Linked DNA regions of Homo sapiens. The protein of the gene in region 1 purifies or fractionates together with the protein of each later gene. This does not show direct contact. Each region holds a gene or a part of one and is shown on either strand. Other genes may lie near its edges.

Evidence for each region.
Region 2: the proteins of AKR1C4 (region 1) and TMEM59 purify together in Homo sapiens (co-immunoprecipitation; one large-scale study listed by IntAct). This does not show direct contact.

What each region holds. Positions count from the first base shown.
Region 1 is NC_000010.11:5,199,615-5,203,653, forward strand, and holds part of AKR1C4 (aldo-keto reductase family 1 member C4), read left to right. Parts: intron 1-566; coding exon 567-734; intron 735-4,039. UniProt on the Homo sapiens protein: Cytosolic aldo-keto reductase that catalyzes the NADH and NADPH-dependent reduction of ketosteroids to hydroxysteroids. Liver specific enzyme that acts as an NAD(P)(H)-dependent 3-, 17- and 20-ketosteroid reductase on the steroid nucleus and side chain.
Region 2 is NC_000001.11:54,026,181-54,029,204, reverse strand, and holds the end of TMEM59 (transmembrane protein 59 isoform 2 precursor), read left to right. Parts: 3' UTR 1-2,524; downstream 2,525-3,024.

The DNA.
Region 1 (4,039 bases):
AGCGGGCCACCTACTGGCAGAAGCAGAATGACGCTGAGTTTGGCTGGGGCAGTCAGAAGACAGTCCAGGCTGCTGAGCAGCCGGACTCTAGGGGAAAACGTTCCTACTCCATCCCCTTCTGACTTCCCCCCAAGCTACCTCCACTCAATGAAACCCTGCACTCATTCACCAAGCCCAGGTGTGATCCGATCCTTCCGGTAAACCAAAGCAAGAACTCAGGATACAGAAAGCCCTCTGTCCTTGCCATAAGGTAGAGGGTCTAATTGAGCTGGTTAACACAAGCCTGTAGATGGCAAAACTTAAAGAACAAAACTAAAAGAGCACCCTGTAACACATGCCCACTGGGGCTTCAGGAGCTGTAAACATCCACACCTAGACACTGTCAACGGGTCATAGTCCCACAACCTGCCCCCATCTGTATGCTCCCCTAGAGGTCTGAGCAGCGGGGGCCTGAAGAAGCGAGCCACACCCCCACTGCACACCCTGTGAGGACAAGGGAACTTTTCCTGTTTCACTACCTCTCAAGCACATTGATCACCAAATACTACCTTTCGTTGCTCCTTCAGGTTCCGAGGAACAGAGCTGTAGAGGTCACCAAATTAGCAATAGAAGCTGGCTTCCGCCATATTGATTCTGCTTATTTATACAATAATGAGGAGCAGGTTGGACTGGCCATCCGAAGCAAGATTGCAGATGGCAGTGTGAAGAGAGAAGACATATTCTACACTTCAAAGGTACTGTGCCTATGATGAGCATGTATGCACATGTGTTTAATGGGATTGTGTGGAGATGACAATTCTGTAACTGGTTCAGTAGTTGTGGGTGAATTGTGCTTATTAGTTCCAATTTATTCACACATATTCAGGTATTAAAGCTAAAATAAAAGGCAGAGAATGATGATGCCTTTCTCATCATTGTTGTGTTCAAATTTACTACTTGAAAGTTACTTTAGGTTTTGAGCCTCAGCTCAGATCAGTATAATTATTTTATGAATTCATATTTTAATTTCAACAGGTTTTGGGGTACAAGTGGATTTTGGTTACATGAATCAATTCTACACTGGTGATTCTGAGATTTAAGTGAAGCTGTCAGGCGATCACTGGACATCGTACTCACTATGTAGGCTTTTATCCCTCACCTCACTCCCAACCTAACCCACACTGAGTCTTGAAAGTTCATTATATAATCTGTATATCTATACATCCTCGTAGCTTAGTTCCCACTTATAAGTGAGAATGTACAGTGTTTGGTTTTCCATTCCTGAATTACTTTACTTAGAATAATGGCCTCAAGCTCCAAGTTCCTGCAAAATATATTATTTCATTCCTTTTTATATATACACTATTCCATGATGTATATATATATATACCACATTTTCATTATTCATGCATTGGTTGATGGGCACTTGGATTGGTTTCATATTTCTACAATTGTGAATCATACTGCTGTAAACATGTGTGGGTATGTGTTTTTTATATATAATGACTTCTTTTCTTTTTGGTAGATACCAGTATTAGGATTGCTGAATCAAATGGTAGATCTACTTTAAGTTCTTTAAGGAATCTCCATACTGTTTTCCATAAAGATTACACTCATTTACATTCCTACCAGCCGTGTAAAAGTGTTCTCTTTTTACTACATTCATGCCAACTTCTACTGTCTTTTCAGCTTTTTAATTATAACCATTCTTGCAGAAGGTGATATCTCATTGTGATTTTAATTTGTACTTCCCTGATTATTAGTTATGTTGAGCATTTTTTCATATGTTCGTTGGCTGTTTGTATACTTCTTTTGAGAAATGTCTATTCATGTTATTTGCCCACTTTTCAACAGGGTTATTTGTTTTTATCTTGGTGACTTGAGTTCCTTGTAGATTCTGGATAATCAGTCCTTTGCTGGATGCATAGTTTGCAAAAACTTTCTTCCATTCTGTAGGTTGTCTGTTTACTCGCATGATTATTTCTTTTGCTGTGCAGAATCTTTTTAGTTTAATTAGGTCCCATTTATTTTTGCTTTTTGTGCATTTGCATTTTGGGGTCTTAGAGACAAATTCTTGGCTGAGGCCAATGTACAGGCCAATGTTAAGAAGAGTTTTCCAATGTTATCTTCTAAAATTTTTATGGTTTCAGGTCTTAGACTTAAGTCTTTGATCCATCTTGTGTTGGTTTTTGTATAAGGTGAGAGATGGCTTCCAGTTTTATTCTTATACATGTGGCTTAACAGTTGTCCCAGCACCATTTATTGAATAGGGTTATTTTCCCTAATTTATATTATTGTTTGCTTTGTTGAACAAAGATTAGTATTTGCCCTAATTTCTGTGTTCTCTATTCTGTTTCATTGATCTAAGTGCCTATTTTTTATACCAGTACCATGCTGTTTGTATAACTATAGTCATGTAGTATAATTTGAAGTCTGGTAATGAAATACCTCCAGATTTCTTCTTTTTGCTTAGTATTGCCTTGGCTATTGAGGCCCTTTTGTGGTTCCATATGAATTTGGAATATGGCCATTTTTATACTATTGATTCTTTCTATCCATAAGCATGGGATGTGTTTCCATTTGTTTATGTATCATTTCTTTTTAGTAGTGTTTTGTATTTTTTTGTAGAGATCTTTCATCTCTTTGGTTAAGCATATTCTTAGGGATTTTATTTGCAGCTGTTGTAAATGGAATTCTTAATTTGACTCTCAACATGGTTGTTGTTGGTGAATAGCAGTGCTACTAATTTCTGTAAACGGATTTTGTAACCTGAGACTTTACTGAATTTGTTTGTCGGAGGAGCTTTTTGGATGAGGCTTTGGGGTTTTGTAGGTATATGATCATATTACTGGCAAACAGCAATACTTTGGCTTATCCTTTTCCAATTTGGATTCCCTTTATTTTTTTTACCTTGCCTGATTACTCTGGCTAGGACTTCCAGTACTATGTTTAATAGAAGTGGTAAAAATTGGGCATCCTTGTCTTATTCCAGTTTTCAGGGGAATGCTTTCAATTTTTCTCCATTCAGTATGATGTTGGCTATGGATTTGTTATATATGCATTTTATGCCTAGTTTGTTGAGGGTTTTTATCATAAATGGATGTTGGATTTTATTAATTGCTTTTTTGCATCTATTGAAATGATCCTATGGTTTTGGTTTTTAATTCTCTTTGTGTGGTATATCATATTTATTGGCTTGTATATATTATAGCATCCCTGCACCTATGGGATGAAACCCACTTGATCATGATATATTTTTGATGTGCTGATGGATTTGGTTAGCTAGTATTTTCTTGAGGATTTTTACATCTGTATTCATCAGGGAGATTGGTCTATAGTTTTCTTTTGTGTGTGTGTGTGTGTGTGTGTGTGTGTGTGTGTGTGTGTGTTATGTCCTTTCCTGGTATTGGTATTTGGTGATACTGGCTTCATAGAATAATTTAGGCAGGATTCCCTCTTTCTCTGTATTTTTGAATAGTTTCAGTAGGATTGGTACCAGTTCTTCTTTGAACATCTCCTGTGGAGATAGCAACTTTGGCTTTCAAGCTATTCCCCTCCCCATCCACCTTCAAGGCCAGGTGCCAGCCTTCTGCATTTGTCTGCAGCACACTTCCTGCTTTCCCCCGGGGTTCTGGCCAAGGGGGCTCATTCCCACTTGAGATAATATTAATATCATGAAATTCAGTTAGGAGCTTCTTTCGATCTGTGACATGTGGCTGAACTCCCCAAGTTCAAGTTGGCTGACTTTGCTGATGTCCCCTGTGAGATAAAATAAGAAATGGCTTCCCTCAGTCCATGCTGGAGACTGGTAATACCTTTGTGACACTTGTCACTGCCGCTTCTACTTTATTTCTCACCTCTCCCTAAATCAGCTTTGGGCCTGGGTAGGGTTAAGGCCTTACCCATGGCCTGAATTCTCAGATTCCCTGGTGGGGAAGAGTATTCTGGAGGCAGTTTCTCCCCTTCTCACACTCTGGGCACTTACAGTTTTTCATCTGTCTCACAGTGTTGGCTGTAGCCTGCCACTTCTTTCAAAGGGTCTGTGAATTTTCACTTTTCC
Region 2 (3,024 bases), on another chromosome or scaffold:
TCAGAAATCCCTGTGGTGCATCATGAGGCAATCTGAGCTGCTGATCAGCAGAAAACCCTGCACTGTCTGAGCTTATCTTCCAGCCAAAGGCAAACAATTTACCCTTTGTTATTAGTCTGTCTGGATTTGTCTTAGATAAATGAGCCATTTTTGTTACAAGTTTTTTAAAGATATACAGTAGTTCCATTATAATTTTTGTGGACTCAAATATCAAGTCCACATGTAGGGAATCATTGACAGAGATTTCCAGTTACTGTCACCACCACACCAAGGCAGTAATTTTGCTCAGTTCTGCCTTTATAGATCCACAATTTAACCATTCAACAACCACCTGAGATCCTGAGTGGCAGGCCCTATGCTAAATGCTAGGACCACAGTAAGACCCAGTGCCTGACCCCAATTGCTGAGACTCTGAAGGAGACTATTATTAATGTGATAAGTGCTATGACCAAGCACAGAGCACATAGGAGGAGCTGTATGCATTATGGGAGCACACAGGAGGACTTCTGGGAGAAAGTGATAGCCAAGCTTAAACCTGGAGAAAAAGGGAACGCCAAACACAATATAGAGAGCAGTGTACCAGACAGTGGGGACACTGTGCTCAAAGACCTAGAGGCCAGAGGGTGAGGCACTGCAGATTGTTGAGTAGGCCGAGATAGAGCATACAAAAGCATAACAAAAGATGGGGCTAGGCAGACCAGGTAATAAACCTGCACTTTAAACCTGCACTTGATCCTGAGCACAGTAGAGAGCCACTGAAAGATTTTAAGCAAGAGAGTGCCATACAGTGTTGGAATGATTCACTCGGACAGCAATGTGGAAGATAGACCAGAAAGGGCAAGTCCAGAGGCCAACAATAATCTTAGCCTCAGAGTTCTTTTTTTAATACCCAAGAATACTATTTCATTTTACTTATATTTTTAAACTTTTCTCTATAACGCTCTCTCTGCTCCCCCACATTGTTGTCTGGATGGTAAACCTAGGACTGGTCTCTGAGTCCTGGTCACAGCCTGGCAACAGAATGTTTGAGCAAACTGGGAAGGCTGCCCCATGGATCCCTGGTTTCTTATCACCATCCTCTTAATTCTACGTTTGCCAACCAGTCTCTAGGAAGCCAGCGTGCTCTTGCGCCCCTCCCACCAGGTTTCCAGTTGCTAAGCGTGTCATGTTTGCATTTGGGTATCATCTGCATGAGTGACCATTTTAATCTCTCTTTCCTTGACTACTTGTTCTACACTAGAGTCTAGGGTGGGGGTGAGTACAGTGGTAAAGACAGGGATAGCGGGAAATTTAGTCTTCTGTTTAGGAAGCTGGATGGTAGTGTGGATTTTCTAACTCCTTGTGGTAATTAAATTCTGGAGCACAGTTTTTAGACCTTTTCTGAAATCTGTTACTGTTGAAGTCAGCTTCATATATTTCACTTTTTTTTTTTTTGAGACAGAGTCTCACACTGTTACTCAGGCTGGAGTGCACTGGTACAATCTTGACTCACTGCAACCTCCACAGCTCCCAGGTTCAAGCGATTCTCGTGCCTCAGCCTCCCAAGTAGCTGGTACTACAGGCGCGTGCCACCATGCTTGGCTAATTTTTGTATTTCTAGTAAAGATGGGGTTTTGCCATGTTGCCCAGGCTGGTCTCGAACTCCTGGCCTCAGGTAATCTGCCCGCCTCAGCCTCCCAAAGTGTTTGGATTGCAGGCATGAGCCACTGCACCCACCCTATTTCACTATTAAGTACTCTCTTCCTGTGATATTAATGACTTATTTGTTTCAAACTTTTTTGTGCCATTGAGCTTTTTAGTGATCCAGTGAAGCCTGTGGACCCCCTCTCATAGTAATGTTTTCAAAGCATAAAACTAAATATAAAGGATCGCAAAGGAAACTGATCATGTTAAAATAAAGTTGATATTTTCAAAGTTTTATGATCCAGTAACATACATATTCTGTTAACACAAAATAAGACTGCATGGTGGTTCTAAAATTACTATAATTCAAATTCATATCTTGAAATATCTAACAACTGTAATATATCTAAATGTCTCATTTCTATTGGTGACAAAGTCACAGGTACTCTGATCCTACTGTGGACTGTTTCCTATATTCGTAATTGAAGGAAATGTTATATTTCAGTTAGAAGTTGGTGAAAAGAAAGATTTAAAATTTTTCCCATCCAAGTTCACCAGACCCCTGGTTTAGAGGTTGTCTTAATTTTACTTTTGTCATTTTAAGAGTAAATTATTTTGTTTTCTTGTTCAATTCTCAATTATTTGGGCTTATTTTACTGCCTCTTGCATGCTTTTTTATGCTTGAATGGTTTTTGCAGTGTTAGAACAGTAATAATTGAAGACTTGGGTGGAAAAAAATCAGCACCTGATTGAAAATGAAAGGTTTCAACAAAAGCTCTTGATAATGTTACCTCCAGGTGTACCATCATGCCACCATTATTGGTGCTACAAATCTGTTAATTTATTTATGCTTAAGTATGTAAACTTTAATAAAACTTGGATCATCTGCATTAAAAAATAATGCTATCTTGTAAAAGTGTCTACTTAGGTAATTCACAATGGGGTGGGTTTGTTGATTCCCCATGACATTTGCAAAGCCCTTTGTAGCACTCTCACCTATCACCTTAAATGGATTCTTATAACATCCATCTAGTGGATTAAAGACTTAAATATAAAACCCAAAACTACAAAAACCCTGGAAGACAACCTTCAGAATGGGAGAAAATATTTGCAAACTATGCATCTGACAAAGGTCTAATATCTAGCATCTATAAGGAACTTAAACAAATTTACAAGAAAAAAACAACCCCATTAAAAAGTGGGCAATGGGCATGAACAGACACTTCTCAAAAGAATATATACATGCTTCCAACAAGCATATGAATAAAAGCTCAACATCACTGATCAAAATATTTGCAAACTATGCATCTGACAAAGGTCTAATATCTAGCATCTATAAGGAACTAAATTTACAAGAAAAAACAACCCCATTAAAAAGTAGGCAATGGGCCGGGCGCGGTG